Regions from separate parts of the Homo sapiens genome. Here region 2 is linked to region 1. A link means that fine-mapping ties the variant in region 1 to the expression of a gene that starts in the linked region. Tissue or cell type: whole blood. Region 1 holds a variant in brackets; the other region holds the start of a gene. All regions are shown on one strand. Distances are from middle to middle.

Region 1 (10,676 bases):
CCTAGCTATTTGAAAATGGAGGGGGGAAAAAAGCGAATTACTAGGGGAAAAAAAAGATGAACATCATGTTAGCATTATCCAGTGTGGTGTTTGGGCTATTCCCATTTTCCCTGCCACATTCTAGGCTGAAGACTCATCATTTGTCTCCTGGTTTCCTGCAACAACCAATAACCACTCTCCTTTCTTCTTTCTCCCTCTCTGGATAGGCATATATGTTTTAAGCTGTTTCATATCTTGCCAGATTGCACTCTGGAAAGGCTGAGCGAATTTATGCTTCTGCCAGCATCATAAGGAGTGCTTGTGCTTGTTGTTAAAGCTTTGGCTTCCTTCTTTCCCTCTCTCCTTCCTTCCCCTCCCTCCCTCCCTCCCTCCCTTCCCTTCCTTCTTTCCTTCCTTTTCTCCCTCCCTTTCTTCCTTCCTCTCTCTGTTCTTTCTTAACCTGTTTTAATTTTTAGAACCCCCTTCCCCTCACCCCGTGGGAAAAAAAGGAAGTTTGTTTTTTAAATTAGAATGTATTTGGTTATAAATGAGGTTAAAGCCCTCCTTCCTCAAAGTTTGCTCATTGAACGTTTGTATATCCTCTTCATGAATGGCCTGTTGCTAATTTTCCTACTGGAGTGATTGTCTTTTTAAAATTGTGTTCACCTATTTATGTTTATCTCATAGCATTGTGCTTATATCAGTGAATTGCTATGAATACTTTTTTGGACTGAGATAACATATATGACATTTATATGAAAGAATAAGCATTTTTATAAAGCTAACAGCTTGGAGCAGCAAGTCACCTTTAACAGTCAGAGGGAGAAGTACGGCATGAGGCATGCATGCTGCTGTGAGGGAACGGGGGACCTGAGTGTGGGCTGGGAGCCTGGGGGCATCAGGGACCCTGGCAGGGAGAAGGGAGGCAGGTACTGCTCACCTAACGTTCCTTCACTCCTCACCATCGTGCACAAGGAAGGTGAGGCAGGAGTTACTCCCGTTTCACAATGACTTGTCCCAGCTCACACCTTAAAGAGATCTCTCGAGACCAAATATGGGATTTTTCTACTATATCACAGTGATTCATATGTTTATTTGTAGAAGGCAAATAAAGCCTTAAAATATATCAAATGTACAATAATAATGAAGCAATTTTTTAAATGTTCAATAGCATGAAGGCCCTGGTCCAGGTCATTATAATGTGAAAATGCCTCCAACAAGCTCTGTCACTTCTTGTTTTCAATCCAGAGTCCCTCGATTCTTGCCCAGCTGTTCAGTAAGTATTCGGAAAGACAGATCGCCCCCCACCCCTAGGGGTATGGTTATGGTGGTAGGTTTTCTGTTTCTATGTGTGTAGGAGGTGCGGGGTGGTGGTGAGATGGGGGAATGATCATGTGTGTACAGTTCTGGTAGATACAGTTGCCTGTCAAGGCAATCAGGAGTGAAATCCTCAAATACCTGGATGTTCTCAACCAACTTCAGGTTCAGAGTGACTCCAGGCCCAAAATCTGTGGCTGAATTATGGGGCCAGTTGGAAGCAGCACATTAATCAGCCATCAATGTTACCAACTAGATGCTTTGTTGGGGGTACCTGCAGTGGCTGCCTCCTGCCAGCCAGAATGGCTGTTCTCTGTGTGTGTGGCTTCTGGGAGCCCAAGGAAGCAAAATTTGAAGCAGAAACATTTTTATTGACCCAAATGGGACCATTAAGGCATTAGCGATCACCCCACCCCCAAAAACTCAGGACAGACAGGGAAGAGGCTCAAGTCCATGGAGAGATACAAAGAAAGTGGATCCTGGGAGCATACAGGACTCCTCCAAACCTAGAGAAGACCAGGAAAGATTATAAAAGCATAATGTGAAGTTTACCAACAGTGGATTTTTTTTTTTTAATGTCAAAAGACAGTTTTAATTCCCATAGCTTTGTTGCTTTCAGTCTGCAATACGGTCTGAAAGTCCCCAAGACTTGCTGGTATGTAGACTCATTTGAGATGGCTGGGGAAACAGAAATACAAATTCTGCCTGTAAGAAAATGGGCCCACCCAGGGGAGTCAAGGGGCTAGAAGGAGAAGTTGGAGCGGTGGGTAGGAGAGGACTAGTACTGCCACTGCCTGGGCTGCAAATCACCTCCCGTAGCCCTCCTTAGCCTATATCCCAGGCCATGGCCTGCAGAATCTCTGCCCCAGAGCTGCTGGGCAGCAGAGTAAGGTAGCACAGCCTTTATCTAGAGTGATAATGGGGAGGCCCTGCCAGTGAAATTGCAGACAGACTGACAGCAGGAGGCTGGGGGATCCACACACCTTAGTGGCATCACCATGATCCAGAAACATGTTTGTCGGAGCCCACGGGGTCAGGCATTCTCAGGAACGCTGAGTCATGCTAACCAAACTCCCAGGCAACAGAAGATGTAGTGTTAACTTCTAAGCATTCACCATACGGGCGTGGTGACTGGAGCACTGATTGGTGGAGTCTCTCCCTTATAGAAAATTTTCATGGAAGCTGAAGACAACCAGAAGGTTGTTGGTGGCAGTGAAATCAGGGGAGGGGAACTGAGCTTGATGTTCTCAAGGTGGCTGAACCCCAACCAGCAGCCTCCCGAGGGGTGGCCTTGTGAGATGCAGGCCCCCTGAACCTTCTTTTCTCTGCCCTGGCCTCCCAGGACTCCACATGCACTTTGAACCCTCATTAATAGCAATAATAAAGGCTTCAGCTTCCTTTGACGTTTGGCTAGGACTTGATTAGATTTCCAGGCTGCTCCTCTGCTTTTGGCAAGGGAAACATCCTGTCATTTAAAGCGGTTTCTGCAGGCAGCTGATCTCATGTGCTCTGGACTGACTGCTCTGCTCCACTCTTGCTGTTTCCTGAAGAGATAAGAAACTGCAGGGCAGGGTGGAAATGACAAGTAGGTGATAATAGTAAAAAATAATAGTGGTGGTAGCTAACTGCTGGCCTGTCCAAGCCTCTTTGTCTTAGAGAGACACCAGTGAGCCTCATAGCCCCCTAGAGGCAGGTACTCTGCCCCGTTTGATGGGTAAGGTATGGGAAGCCCATGCCCAGGCTCCCACTGAGCTGTTGGTTGTGGGACTAGGACTGGAACTCAGGCTTGTTGGACTCTAAAACCCTTGATCTTAACCATTACACTGGTGTCTCAAATGCCTTCGGACTTCAAGAATATGTGCATGTGCCACCAGCATGGGAAGACACCGACCTAAGAAATTGAAGTCTTAGTCTATGAAAATGGCATTTATTTGTATTTTATCACTGCAGAAGAGAAGCTTTGTTTAAATAATTGGTAAAATAGGGCCAGGTGTGGTGGTGCACCCCTGTAATCCCAGCTACTCAGGTGGCTGAGGCATGAGAATCGCTTAAGCCCAGGAGGTGGAGGTTGCAGTGAGCTGAGGTCCTGCCACTGCACTCCATGCTGGATGACAGAGTGAGACCGTATCTCAAAAAAAAACCAAAAACAAACAAACAAACAAAAACAAAAAACCCCGGCTGGGTGCTGTGGCTCACACCTGTAATCCCAACACTTCAGGAGGCGGAGGTGGGCGGATCACGAGATCAGGAGATCAAGACCAACCTGGGCAACATGGTGAAACCCCATCTCTACTAAAAATACAAAAAAATTTAGCTGGGTGTGGTGGTGGCGGGCACCTGTAATCCCAGCTACTTGGGAGGCTGAGGCAGGAGAATCGCTTGAACCCGGGAGGCAGAGATTGCAGTGAGCCGAGATAGCGCGCACTACACTCCAGCCTAGCAACAGGGCGAGACTCTGTCTCAAAAAAATATATAAATAAATAATAATATTTGTTCAAGCATTTTATAAAAACAAAAACATGACTTTTAAAAATTAGAACTCGTGGATCCCTTGAGAACACTTCTGACCCTGGGGTCCATGGACCCTGGTTGAGAAACACCTTACTTTAATAACTCTGGGTCAATAACTAAAACCCAACCCGAGTTTGAGAGGCGATTTGGGCTTTTGAGTTAGACCAATCAGGTTCAGAATTAATTCTCTTCACTCACTTCTTGCTAGGCTGAGGTCACCGGGGGAAAGATGATGGCATTCCTCGGGATAGGAGTTGCCTGGGCCAAGTGCCCTTTGGGAGAAGGTGTGCCTTGAGATGCAGGTGGCATGTGACCCCGCCTCTCCCAGCAGGTTCTAGGTGGCCCCTGGCTTGGCCTGGCCTGTTAGCCCCCCTCCAGCCTCATGATGAGCCCCTAACAGGAGCAGCCTCTGCTCCAAGGACATGCTCCAATTCGAGGGTCTGCCAGGCTTCAGCCCAGGCTGGTGTGGCCCTGGTCTTCATCCTTGGGGAATTTGTCCACCACATCCAAGCCAGTGGCTAGGCACAGGAGCCTCAGGGTTTTGGTTTCACTGTCTCATCAGTCCCTGTTTTCTGCTCTGTTTTCAGAAAACCCCAGGCCCAGGAGCATATACAACTTTAAGACAATTCCCTAAGCAGTCTCCGACCATAGCCAAAATGGGCCAAGAGCATAGCCTTTTCTTCAACAACAACAATTGGCTTTTAAAATAAAGTGATCTTGGCACCAAGCTCTACTTTGAGGTTTAGTACGTTCTCATGTTTAGAAAACTGTATTTTGTCTATTCCTTGGAGGGGTCTGGCCACAAAACATGATTGATTGCTTGAGGTGACTGTCCTGCTTGCTTATCTGGGATAGTCCCAGCATAATTACCAGTTCTCTCTCAAAAGTGTCCTGGTCTGAGCAATAAATTATGTGTTCACTATGCTTATTACCAAAGAGCAGATTCGGACAGACTGTGCCCCGGGCTGCTCTCAGACAGGCCCTGAGATGTCTGGTCTCTGCTCTGTGTGGCCTTGTTCTCTCTAGCTGGAACTCAACTGCATCAGGGTTATAAGGCCTCATGGCCCTCTTGAAGACTTCCGTGGGCGGTCAGCATTAATCAGAGGCCAAGCTGAGCGTCACAGCATCCCCAAAACTGGTTCTTTCTCTCTTTGAATCCCCTGAAAAGAACAATATTGATTCAACCTGATGAATATTTGTGTTTTCAAGTCAACAACATTTTGAGTATCTGCTATGTGCAAGGTGCTGAGCTGGGGTTGGAGAGTGGAGTCTTGAAACAAAGATGAATGAGGCACGTGACTGAGTTTGGGGAGGGTTGTGCCGGAAATGGAGTGTGGG[A/G]TAGTGCCGGCTGGGGGAAGGCCATACAAGCTGTGCCAAGGATCTCCTGCCAGTTGCCCTGTGTTTGAAGCTAAGGGGCTGCCCTCACGTGGATGGCAGTTCCAACAGGAAGACGAGCTGTAGTTTCAGGAAGCTGCCAAATCATTGCACCAGGTGCACAGAGGAGCCATTGTGACAAGGAAGGCCGCAGGCATTCAGAGGAAGGAGAAGGCAGTGTGGCCTGAGCCTGGGAGGTAAGGGGTGGCCCGCACGGAGGAGGGTAGATTGGCCGGCACCCCAGGTATCAGGAGGCTGTGATCAGCAGAGGAAAGAGTCAGGGGTGGGGAAGCCTATCTGGGCAAAGGCCCAGGGCAGGAATAAACATTTGCTGGAGGGGAACAGAGGCAGTCTGGACCAATGACAGTGGAGGGTGCAAGTGAGGGTGTGGGAGGGGATGAGGGTCCTCAGAAGGCTGGGACCACATGCTTTCTGCCCAAGGGGCTCTAGCTAGGCAGATCCTATGCATGACAGTGGTGTCTCAGCAAAGGCTAGGGAGATTCCAGAGTGGTTAATAAATCATTGCAAAGGGTCTTTTTAAAAAGCTAATAAAATGAAGAGCTAATAAAATGCTTACATTTTGTTATATTTTAGTAAATAGCCCAGCCCCTCCCCATTAACTGCTATGATGCTGGCTTCTCTAGGTCCCCGCTTTGGTTCCCCCGAGAATCCCGCTCTTCCTCCCACACACACATTACCCTCCTCCCACAACTGCCCTGTGAATTGGGCTCCAAACAAAGGGAATGTCTCTTTTTGGCTGCAACAAAGCCCTAGACTTACAGGCCCTTGTAAAATGGTTGTTGAGGGGCGAAAGGGAAGGCCATCATCTCCTGGAATGTATTCACATTTGTGGAATAAACGCCCTACAATTACATTCCTTTGGAGCAGAAAACAGACACTTGGAAGATCAGACTGATGTCTCAGGATAGTGTCTCCTGTCCCCCTTTGATGAGAAGATGGCTGCAGGGAAGATAGTTTCCAATTTTATTCTCCAAGTGGGCTAAAGTCCCCTGCATGATCGAAAGTAATGGCTGGACATTCTGATGGAGGGTGTTTTCTCTAGGAAGCAACATCTCAGGCAGCACCTGGCACTGAGATGCTGTTCTAGAATGAGATAGAGGCGGGAGATGGCCACGTGTATCTTAGCCAAGGCTCATTGATAGAAAGGTTAGAGAAACCCCTCAAACTAGCAAGGGGAAGAAGGGGGTCAGATTGTAAGGATTTAGAGGCATCTCATCGACAAAAGTGTAAACCAGGGGCTGGCAAGAACCATCTCTCTCTCTCTCTCTCTCTCTCTCTCTCTCTCTCACTCTGTGTCTGTGTGTGTGTGTGTGTGTGTCTTGCTCTCACTCTCTCAGGCCTCATGGTCTCCCTCCTCTCTCTCAGGCCTCATGGTCTCCCCTCTGCCTCTCTCAGGCCTCATGGTCTCCCCTCTGCCTCTCTCAGGCCTCATGGTCTCCCTCCTGTCTCTCAGGCCTCATGGTCTCCCCTCTGCCTCTCTCAGGTCTCTCTCTCTCTCTGTCTCTCTCTCTCTGTGTGTGTGTGTGTGTGTGTGTGTGTGTGTATGTGTTCTTGCTCTCACTCTCTCACCCTCTCAGGCCTCATGGTCTCCCCTCTGCCTCTCTCAGGCCTCATGGTCTGCCCTCCGCCTCTCTCAGGCCTCATGGTCTCCCCTCTGCCTCTCTCAGGCCTCATGGTCTGCCCTCCGCCTCTCTCAGGCCTCATGGTCTGCCCTCCGCCTCTCTCAGGCCTCTTGGTCTACCTTCCTCCTCTCTCTCAGGCCTCAGGGTCTCCCCTCCGCCTCTCTCAGGCCTGCTTTTTTCTCCCTCTGGAGGCTGACTTTCACTGCCTCTTTATATGTAGAGGATCAAATGCGGCGACCTCAGCTTCTCCTCATATCACTTTCTGAGTCAACATTCTAAAAGAATAGAGCCGGCACCTCCTTGGTTCAAGTCTCCAATTCCTAGGAGAGAGAATCCAGTTGGCCAGCTTGGGTCAGGGGTCTGCGCCTGGGCCACGAGCTGTGGTCAGAAGGGCCCAGACCTTTGCTGCAGGCACGGCTGCGGGGGCCCGTGTGAGGTGCGTGTAACTGGGGTGGAGGGCAGCTCCCTGGCATCCCAGGAGAGAATGAGGACCCTGTCGGAATCATAAGGGGAAAGCGTTTATACCAGCTTGCAGGAAGAGGGTGGGGGCCTGCAGAGACTTCCCCTGGAGGTGGAACCCATGGAGAAGATTCTGCAGGGCCATCTGGGCTGCTTCCGTTTCCCCCAGCAGATGCTTCTTCCTGCTCTGGGCTTTTGCCCAGATAGGGTTCCTTGCCCCTGACCCTCCTCCTTCTCGCTGATCTCAGCTTCCTGATCCCTGGGGTGCCGGCCAACTGCACTCCTACATGATTTTCTGGGGAAAGCTAGTGCCTGACCATGACCAGGTGACAGTTGTTCTGGGTAGAAGGACAAGCAAGGGCCTGAACCCATGTGCTTTTGCTGGTCTGATTCTTGGCTGGGGTCCCTACAGACCCCTTGGTTTTGGCCAAGGGCAGGGCTGCAGGCGCATAGAACCTGCCAGGCTCAAAGGGAAGGGGTTGGGCTCTGGATTCAGGGCCTCATGGCCTGCCCGTCCCACCCTCCTCTTAGCAGGGCTGGGTGGGCTTTGGGGGCCAGTGCCCAAGCCCCAGACCCTGGCTGGGCTTATTTGCAGCCTCCTCAGAGAAAAGGCAACTCTGGAGAGCAGGAGGGGCCAAGGCTGGAACCATGGGAGGCTGGGAGGTGGTGGGGGCATGAGGAAGGAAGGAGCAGGAGATGGGTGATGGGAGGAGGGAGGACGGAGTGGCAAGAGAAGGGGCTCCTGGGGATGGACTTGTAGGGGAAGGCCTCCCAGTACATACCCCTCAATTGTCTTGTTAACAACAGCCTTGCCCATATTTGAGCCCAGAAAAAGGTGCCATCCTTCTAGACAGTTGTAGGGGCTCCAAGGGGTCTAACTAGCATGGGAGCAAGCTAGCACCGTGACTGCTTTGGTGGGAGTGTGCTTTAGTTCCTGAAAACTGTAGGCAGACAGGGTGACTGCAGGAAGTTAACTCAGGCTATGACACTGCGTCTTTGGTCACCAGAGTGGGCTGAGTGGGGGCAGAGGCAGGTACTGACAAGCATTCTATTCACCTCACCCCGTTGCAGCCTAGCAGCCTGGGAGGAGGCCGTGGGGGACAGCAAGGCAATGTGCTGGGAGCTGTGCTGGTCACAGGTGGAGTGCAGGGCTTGATGAAGGCTGGCCGCTGCCCCCCTCTTCCCTGCTCTGAAGTTCCAGGGCTCCAAGGCCCTGCATGGTCACTGAGCGCCATCAAGGAGGAGGGAAGTTGCTGGAGCTTTCCCGATTGAACAGCGTCAGAGTGGACACTTGGAAATATACCAGGCAGGATCACGCCTATTCAGGCTTCTAATCCTCAGCCCCTCCTGGGCTGGGCATGGGAGCTGGACTTGCAGAATACCCCAAAGCGCAGGTTGACAAAGGCCTCCCTGAGCCCTTGTGCCCATCTGTGCTGGGGTAGCTCATTCACTCAACCCTCTGTGTGAATTTCTTGTGGCTGCTGTAACAAATGACCACAGACTTTGTTGCTCAAAACAACACAATTTTATTACCTTACAGGTCTAGAGGTCAGAAATCCAAAATCATTCTTATTTGGCCAAAGTGAGGATTTTGACAGGGCTGGTTCCTTCTGGAAGCTCTGAGAGTTGGCTTCCTTGTCTTCTGCTTCTCGAGACCACTTGCATTTCTTTCCTTGCAGCCCTTCCTCCGATCGCTCCACTCTCATTTCCGTCATCACATCTCCCCCTGTTGACTCTGACCCTCCTGCCTGCCTTATATAAGGACTGTTGTAGTTATATTGGGCCCACTGGATAATCCAGGATAACCTCCTCATCTCAAGATTCTTATTTATTTATTTATTTATTTATTTATTTTTGAGATGGAGTCTCACTCTTGTCACCCAGGCTGGAGTGCAGTGGCGCGATTTCAGCTCACTGAGACCTCTACCTCCCAGGTTCAAGTGATTCTCCTGCCTCAGCCTCCCAAGTAGCTGGGATTACAGGTGGGCACCACCACGCCTGGCTGATTTTTTGTATTTTTACTAGAGATGGGTTTTCACCATGTTGGCCAGGCTGGTCTCAAACTCCTGACCTCAAGTGATCCACCCGCCTTGGCCTTCCAAAGTGCTGGGATTACAGGCGTGAGCCACCTCGCCTGGCCTCATCTCAAGATTCGTAATTCAATCACATTTTCAAATCCCTTTTACCCTGTAAGGTAACATATTCACAGGTTCTGGGGGTTAGAACATGGACACTTTTGGGGGGACATTTCAGCCTACCACACTACCTTTCTAACCTTTCTCTTTCTAACCTTTCTCTGGATCCCTCACAATGATCTATCAGGAAATAGAAGCCTTGTAGAAAGTCACCTTGAAGTGTGGGGAGGCTCTTTGGATTATTTTGAGTCACAAAATACTATTTAGGGAAGATCTCTTGGCCTGAATAACCTCAGTCATTGCTGGTGTTGGATGCTGATGGAAATCATCTGATGAAATAATTAAAAAAAAAAAAGTAGTAAAGAAATTTAGAACTGATTTATAAATCATCCCCAGAGGTTTGATTTTATGGTTGCTCATGTTAGATGTTACAACACGCTCTTTGTAGATCACTTAAAAAGCAATCTAGTTAAAAGTTGCATTATGGAGAATGGGGTCAGCGATGGGAAGAACTCTCCTGTTTTATAAATGGTACTTATGGCTCCAGATAAAATCTCTGGTGGCCACATTATTCAAGACTTTTTAAAGTGCTTTATCTGAAATATCTTCATAGACATGAATATGAAAGTTCTGAAAATTGTGTTCAATGGCCCGTGTGTCCCAGAAGATCCTAATGTAAAGATGCATATTTATAAAGTAATTTATAGAATAGGATTAAACATATGTAGAACTTTATTAAGAAAATATAATGACTTTGGGACCAATTACAGGCCCTTGAACAGCCACAATAGGCTCAGGAGGGCTGTGCTTCTGTGTAAAGTCCCCTCCCAGACACCACCAGGGTACAGAGCTGGGATGGTGCATGGCTTGGGCAAGTCCATCTGGGCAGAGAGAGAAGGCCAAGGTCAGCCTGTGGGTGGGGACATGGCGGCCTCACTCCACATTTGTACCTCAAGCCTCCCAGCCACAGGGGCGCCTCCTGGGACCCAGCTTGGCGTTCCATTCATGGGGGCACCCACACGTGTGGCTGAGCCCGGGTATGTGGAATGTGGGGGTCCAACCCAAGAAGCAGAACCCACAGGGCTGTGCTGGCCTCTGGGTGTTCTGCCAAAGCATAAGGGCCCCGTAAGGTGGGAGGCAGTTGGCAGAGGACTTCTAGAAGGCGTGGGAAGGATCTTAAAGGACAAGGCACAAGCAAGGAGTGGGCATTCTGGAAAGGCGTCTTGCAGGGTGTGGGGTGGGCATGGGAGGCATGGCT
Region 2 (8,012 bases), 68 kb before region 1:
AATGCTTCCTACAACATAATCCTATTGGAACCCAGGACTGTGATATCACCTTCAAGTTGTGTTTTTGTTTTTGTTTTTGTTTTTTTTAGATGGACTCTAGCACTGTTGTCTGGGCTGGAGTGCAGTGGCGCAATCTCGGCTCACTGCAGCTTCTGCCTCCCAGGTTCAAGCAATTCTGCGTCAGCCTCCCGAGTAGCTGGGATTACAGGCGCCCGCCACCACGCCCAGTTAATTTTTTGTATTTTTAGAAGAGACAGGGTTTTACTATGTTGGCCAGGCTGGTCTCAAACTCCTGACCTTGTGATCCGCCCACCTCGGCCTCCCAAAGTACTGAGATTACAGGTGTGAGCCACCTCGCCCAGCCCCACCTTCAAGTCTTAACCATACTATTAGTGTTATATTAATAGGATTTTGGTAATTGTACCAACCATAATACTGTCTGGCATGTTTGCTCTCAGATGATTCTCCCAATAAACAACTATTGCAGTTAAATATCACCCTTGGTGTAACGTATTTTCCTAAAATTTTTAGAAGACGGCAACAATTTTAAAGATCTGATATGTAACAGAGGCACTGTTGAGCTCAATTATAGATATGTATTCTCAAGAGAAATGCCTCTCCCCCTTTTTGAAACTTACAATAATCTGGAAATAAATCTCAGTGATACTATATAAGATAATGTTTTCTTAAAGGAACACTATGTTTATCCTACGTGCTTAATCTGCTTTGTGGATAGTCCTTGAAATCATTGACCCATGCTGTTTCTATTTTTGAGATACTTAAACTATTTTCTCATCTAGATGTTCCCATCTCTAATGTCACACCTTGTATGGGTTTCTGGACTTCTCTGTACCTTTCATATTCTTTTAGTCTCGAGGGTACCAGTCCCTAGTCTGCTGAGCCAGTTTTACAGGCTCAGCCAAAATAAGAAAATGAAATGAGGCACAGGGAATGGACTTGATTAATCTCTTAACATTTGTGAGAACTTTGGTATTGCCTCTTCACTTTCTAATTTCAGTTGTTCATTTTAAACCTAGTGCCTGTTTTTTTTTTCAAGGCTATGTTAAATGAATTTAGAATCCCAGTATTTTAAGAAACTAGATGAAGTCCTCTAGTCTCTTGCTCCTCAAAAAGTCACCTACAGAATCACCCAGGAGCTTGTTGGAAATGCAGAATCTTAGGTCCTGCCCCAGAATTGGAATCAATCTGTTTTTTTAACAAGATCATCAGATATTTTGTATGCATATCAATTTTTGAAAAGCACTGCTGTAATCTAGTCTTGGATTTACTTAGAGGGGAAAACTAGTCAGTGGTTTATTCAACAAATATTTTAGTCCTTGTGTTCAAAGGGGTCAATTAAAAACCGTGTTTTGGGTGTTTAAAATTAGAGGAGAAACGATTTGTCATAAAATGAATCTTCCAACAATGATAGGCACAGGGTCCTTTGGGACTTAGTGGATTAGGCTTAGAGGTCTACTCAGAGGAGCTGACCCTTGAGATTTTCCAGGTGGTCAAAGAAAAGAATAGCATTTCATGCAGAAGAGCTAGCATATGTGGAGACAAATAGAAATGTGAAGATGGCATGTTTGGGGTTTTTGCAAGCATGATACAGCAGAGCATGCCATCCTAATAAGAGAAGTGGCCGGGTGTGGTGGCTCAACCTGTAATCCCAACACTTTGGGGGACCGAGGTGGGTGGATCATGAGGTCAGGAGTTCGAGACCAGCCTGACAAATATGGTGAAACCCCGTCTCTACTAAAAATACAAAAATTAGCTGGCATGGTGGCGGGCGGCCGAGGTTGTAGTGAGATCGCGCCACTGCACTCCAGCCTGGGCAACAGAGTGAGACTTCGTTTCAAAAAAAAAGAGAGAAGCGAGAGACTGGATTGTAAATGTTGCTTTTGTCCTAAAGGTAATGACAGCTCACATTTACTGACTGCACTGTGCCAGACATGGTTGTGAACAGTTCGAGTTAATCTTTTTTATAACCTATGTGGATAGGTACCAATTTTATTATCCCCTTCTCTATAGACAAGGAAATAAGCACAGAATAAGTCATTATATGCAACCAGCGTCCAAGTCCTGGTAGTCAAGGGAGGAGAGTGATTCAAGAATGAGGGAATAATCAATGCAGCAATGAAAATTGAAGGCCAAGTTTCATAAGAGCTGAAAATCCCCACTGGATTTGGCACTTGGATCCCTGGTGAGTTCAGGTGCAATTTTAATTAAAAGCTGTGTGCAGGCCAGATTAAGATGTTTTAAGGAAAGTATGGGAAGTGAGAAAAGAGTCCATATTACTCTTGAAAGTTTGTAAAGGGAAGCAGAAACTTCATGGTATAGGGCAGTGGAGCTCTAGAGTCAGGTCTGGATTTTAATTCTGGTTCTGCCATTTGTGTGTGATGCTGAGTGAACTGTGCTAAACGTCCAAGGAAACCTTTGTTTCCTCATCCAGAAAATGAAACTAATACCTACTTTGTAGGGTTGGTATGAAGATTAAATGAGACTAATGTGTGTGAAGTCCCTGGAATACAGTAGGTACTGTATAAAATGAAATTAAGGTTGTGGAGGGTTTGTTTTTAAAGGTGAGAATGTTCCTAGGTTAAGAAGAAGCTACAGCCTAGAGAGGCTGACAATAAAAAGGGTCTATACTGAGAAGAATGGGGTGGTCTGTGGTTTCACAGCTAGTGAAACCGGCTGTGTCTGGTGCTCACTCCACTCTGCAAGTCAGAAGCAAGAGAAGTCAGCCCCAGAGTTTCTATTTGGAGGAGCTTAGAAACAATCTTAGAAAGTGGGTGCTAAGGCAGATTTCTCTTAAGTATGCCTACCAAGCACACTGCCTCCCTGTCTGGGGTGTGCGATTGGTGGTGGATTGGAAGGGAACTAATGGAGATTGTGGGTACGCTCAAGCCCTTAACAAGCCTCCCTTTTCGCAGATCCTTACCCGAGGGCTCTCTAGCAACTCCAGAGCCCTCTAGATTTTCTTCTCACAAGCTTTCATAACCGTCTCTTTTCGAGGGTTTTCCTCTGCGCAGTTCTTCGCGCGGGACCTCAAAGTGCGTGCCCGCTTCCCTTCCCTGCAGCACTAAAGACAAACCTGGCGGGTCCCCCGGAGCGGTCCCAGGCGCGCGCGCTCGGGAGCCCACGGGCCACACCCGCCTCCTAGCAACCGGAGCTCAGGTTCAGCCTAGAGAGAGAGGAGGCCACCATGGACCAGCCAGCCGTCGCCACCGCTTCCACCTCAATAAGGGAAGACCTGGTGGGTGGAGAATCATTCATCACAGCTTCGGTAAGATGGCCTGCCCCTTGCCGGCCTGGCTCCTGCTCCCCTCACCAGGCCCACTACCCTTTTCCCACCGCTCTCTAATCCCAGGCCTTCGTGCCGCTCTCGTTCCCTCTTCCTACCCTTCTCTCCCTGCCCTCACGCACGTCTCCACCTGCGGACCTTCCTTCCTGGTCTTTATTGGACATTTCCTTTGTTTTATTTCTTTTCCCCTTGCTTCTTCCCTTTTCCTTCTCCTTCGCCCTTTGTTTTCTGTATTTTTCCCTTCTTCCCACTACTAATTAAACTGGACAACTGCTTTAATATGGTGATTGGATTTCTTTCCCTTTCCGCTCCATCTGCCGGAAGACTGGGTTTTTCCTTCTGTAGTTTTACTAGACACGTTTTGCTCCGCCTCCTACTTTAATATTTATAAAAATATTTGAAGCTACTTTTGCTACGTTTTTCTTTTAGAGTCTCGCTCTGTCACCCAGGCAGGAGTGCAGCGGTGTGATCTCGGCTCACTGCAACCTCCGCCTCCCGGGTTCAAGGGATTCTCCTGCCTCAGCCTCCCGCGTAGCTGGGATTACAGGCATGCACCGCCATGGCTGGCCTTTGTTACATTTTAAAATAAATGTGGGTGAGGGTTGTTTAACCTAATCTTTTATCTTTCCCCTTAGAGTGAATTTAAAGTGGTAGATAGATGGAATTTAGATCACCTGTCTTGGGCAAAACAAAACAGCAGCTGCCAATTGTCTTCCATTAGATTGATCGCGTTTACTTCTCTCTCCTTCCCATCTCATTTTCCTTATTCTGGGGTAGGGGTGGGAGGCCTGTCTTGACCTGCCTGAGAAAGTTGTATTTCTGTGACTATAAAAGTGCAACAGAGAAGATTCAACATAAATCTCGCGAAGAAGTATCAAAGAAGAAGCTCAGCTTTAGCAGTGTCATGAGAAAATGTTTTTTAAAGAAATTAACATATTTCATAATAAAATAAAGCCCAGTGGTACTCATAAGTACAGTAGATTTAAGTTACTAGACAGGAAGAATGAATTATATCAGTTTTACTGATTATTACTTTTAATGCAGTCCTGCTTGATGACCTATATTTTATAGTAATAAAGGCATTATAAATGAAAGGAGAACTCAACATTTTAATGATTTTATCTAGGACAAACAGCAATATACTAAACGGTTGTGTTCTGTGGACAATGGGCTGAAATAAATATGAAATAATAATGGATGAATGGGTATAGAGTACTAAATATGAAGACAAAAGCTTCCTTGGAAACTGAGGAATACCAAAATAATCAGCTTCTTAACTTGGCAAATGGGATGTTAAAAATTAAAGCTACCATTTATTAAGCACTGATTGTATATGCAAGTCTTTATAAGTACAATGCCTTAGTCTTTTTTTTCCCCCTGAGGTGGCTTCTTGCTTTGTCGCCCAGGCTGGAGTTGCAGTGATGTGATCTCGGCCCACTGCAACCTCTGCCTACGGAGTTCAAGTGATTCTCGTGCCTCAGCCTCATGAGTAGGGATTACAGCCTTCTGAGGAGGGATTACAGGCATGTGCCACCATGCCCAGCTAATGTTTTTGTATTTTTAGTACAGATAGGGTTTCAACATGTTGGCCAGGCTGGTCTTAAACTCCTGGCCTCAAGAGATCCACCCAACTTGGCCTCCCAAAGTGCTGAGATTACAGGCGTGAGCCACCACATCTGGCATACAATGCTTTATTCTCATGCCAACTCTGGTAGTGCCTTATTTTTATACTACTGTGAGGAAGCACGAGGGTTGGGTAACTCACCCAGTGCACCTAGCTGGTAAGTGGCAGAGCTGAGTTCCAGCCTAAGTCGGTCTGGCTTCAAGCCTAACTCTTTTCTTCCTAAGGACACCACATTTTGTCACATTTAAGATACTTACAACATCTCTGTGAGATGGGGGTGTTTATTACTCTAATTTTATCAAAGGGAATTTAGTTATTTGAAAGGACTTAAGACCATAAAATAACAATTTAAGGAAATATGGGCAAATTTATTATTATGTAGCTTTTATTTTAATGAAGACATATCAGTTGGGTATGGGTGTGAATTTCTTCAAGCAAATGTTTTATAAATTATATTTAATTTCAAGGGATCACCTCTCAAATGAATAAGCATACTTTGTGTTTGTTAACAGAAACCAGCCCAAAAGACTTCCTCTTTTGAAAGAGAAGGATGGTGGAGAATAGCATTAACAGTATGTACATTGTTCAGTCTTTCCTATTCACATTATTCCTATTCCATTAATATTTTAATCAATTATAGCTTTTAAGACTAACACTAAATTGTAAGAAAACAGTGATTGTTCAGATCTGCATGGACCTCATGTCATACTTAAAATTTTAGTGTCAGCATATGAATAAGAAACTAACTTTTAATTTTGAATGCAATAGAAGCTTGGGAAAGTTAAACAATTCTAGAAATCTAGGTGCTTTACAGAATATCTAGATAAGGCTAACCTATGCTCTTATGATCTGGGTGAGATTGCAAAACAAAAAAAGCATACATTCTGGAAAGGTGTTTTGGTTTCAGTTTTTATCTTATATGGTAAAGACCTTCTGCAAATGGTTCTTAATATGGTCAATATATGAAAGCAAAATGGTAATATATGGAAGAAAAATGACCAGAAGATCCCCCTCACCAGAGAGTTTCTATATTACAGACATATTTTCTGTCAATGCCCTTCAATAATAGAGGGACTTCATGGGTCAAAGCCTTCTTGGAATTGCAGTAATTTTAAAGGCAGAACTGAGCTGAGTGCTCAGTGGAAAGATGGCCACAAAAGCAGCAGTGACTAAACGTTCAATTCTGGCCATTCAGCCACACTGGTTGTAATTTGAAAGTACCAAACCTCTTATTGGACTAACTAGGCCATATGCTCTGCCAGTTTATCCTGGTGTCATGTCATTATCCTTCAGCTTCCCACTTGAGGGCTAGAGAGAAACATCCTACATTGGCTAAGCAGATGTAGGATAGCTTCTAGTTAGCCAAGAGACTATCCTGAGTGGTCTCACTAGAGGTCTGAAATTCATAGTCAAGCTTGAATCCCAAAGTTGAATCACCGAAGTTGCCTTTTAAAAACTTAAATTTCGGCCGGGCCTGGTGGCTCACGCCTGTAATCCCAGCACTTTGGGATGCCAAGGCGGGCGGATCACAAGGTCAGGAGATCTAGACCATCCTGGCTAACACAGTGAAACCCTGTCTCTACTAAAAATACAAAAAAAAAAAAAAAAACAAAACAAAAAACTAGCCGGGCGTAGTGGCTGATGCCTGTAGTCCCAGCTACTTGGGAGGCTGAGGCAGGAGAATGGCATGAACCTGGGAGGCGGAGCTTGCAGTGAGCCTAGATTGTGCCACTGCACTCCAGCCTGGGTGACAGAGTGGGACTCTGTCTCAAAAAAAAAAAAAAGTTAAATTTCAACTCTAACCCGTTTGCTTTAATTCAGCAATTATTTCAGAAAGGAAATAATCATGATTTTGAAATACTCTTCTGTCAAGAGTGTTTACTGTATTTGATATAATTTCATTAAACTTGAAAACAAAGAGAGATGTTACTTGGGAGCTTCCCATCCAAGAATGGTGTTTTAGGAGAAGTTACATGTTTACACAATCTTAAAACTGATGTCAATTTTCCACAGGATACTCCTATACCTGGCACTTACCACTTGAAAACTTTTATTGAAGAATCCCTATTAAATCCAGTGATAGCAACCTACAATTTTAAAAACGAAGGAAGGAAAAAGCCACCTCTTGTGCAAAGAAACAATCCAGTCCTAAATGATCTTCCGCAGTATATGCCTCCTGACTTCCTGGACCTGTTAAAGAAGCAAGTGGCTACTTACTCATTCAAAGACAAACCACGGCCAAGCCCCAGCACACTAGTTGACAAAGATCAGGTAAAGCGCTACTGGCAGATTGCTTTGTGTGGGAAAGCTACTAAGAGCCCCTGAGGAAAGTATTTTTATACGTAGAGTATATCTTCCCCCAGGAGAAATGGAAAACCTTTAAGATGTCTTATTTCCCGTAGAAATCAAACAAGGACTGCCTGATTTGCAAATGTTTCCAGTAAGATTTTTCCCTATAACATCTTCTTAACCTAAGGGGAGTACATGGGGAGAAATGTTTTCCTCTTGGGCAACTCTTGGTGGGATTCCCCTAGCCTGGAGAGCACCTGGGATCTTATCTGTCATTGGGCTATGCTCTTATCTCTTCAAGCAGTATATGTGGTGAACCCTCTTCTTTTAAAGAGAAAACCCTGCCTCTCGGGGAGTATCCTTATTAGAGCATAAATATAACTACATACCACAGGGAAGCTTTTAAAAACTTTTCTTATAGAAATGACCCATCTCTACAAAAAATAAAGAAAAATAGCCGGGTGTAGTAGTGCATGCCTGTGGTCCCAACTACTCTGGAAGCTGAGGTGGGAGGATCACTTGAGGCCAGGTGTTGTAGATCAGCCCGGGCAATATAACAAGCCCTCAACTCTTTAAAAAAAAAAAAAAAATAGCTACTTGGGAAGCCAGGGCAGGAGGATCCCTTGAGCCTGGGAGTTTGAGGCTGCAGTGAGCTATGATTATATGACTGTACCCCAGCCTGGGTGACAGAGTGACATGCTGTCTCTAAAAATATTTTTTTTAATTAAAAAAAAAAAGAAAAGAAGTGAGCATGTGGTCCCAGGAGGGTCAGCTTCTACTCTCAGCTCCACCAGT

What was found. PIP is the estimated chance that this variant, and not a neighbour inherited with it, causes the effect.
Region 2: it holds the start of STPG4, and the variant in region 1 is fine-mapped to the expression of STPG4 in whole blood (TOPMed, PIP above 0.99).

What each region holds. Positions count from the first base shown.
Region 1 is chr2:47,080,849-47,091,524 of GRCh38, reverse strand. It overlaps STPG4 (sperm-tail PG-rich repeat containing 4), which reads left to right. Exons shown (of 7, transcript NM_001163561.2): 6 at 1,151-1,255; 7 at 4,395-4,534. The coding sequence ends at 4,517. Among named protein-coding and RNA genes, the nearest start is that of STPG4, 69 kb to the left of the region's middle. RefSeq lists enhancers at 1,405-2,604, 10,008-10,676. The variant A/G (reference allele first, on the strand shown) is at 5,146.
Region 2 is chr2:47,150,445-47,158,456 of GRCh38, reverse strand. It overlaps STPG4 (sperm-tail PG-rich repeat containing 4), which reads left to right and starts at 3,149. Exons shown (of 7, transcript NM_001163561.2): 1 at 3,149-3,286; 2 at 5,441-5,500; 3 at 6,942-7,199. The coding sequence starts at 3,206. RefSeq lists an enhancer at 2,472-2,631.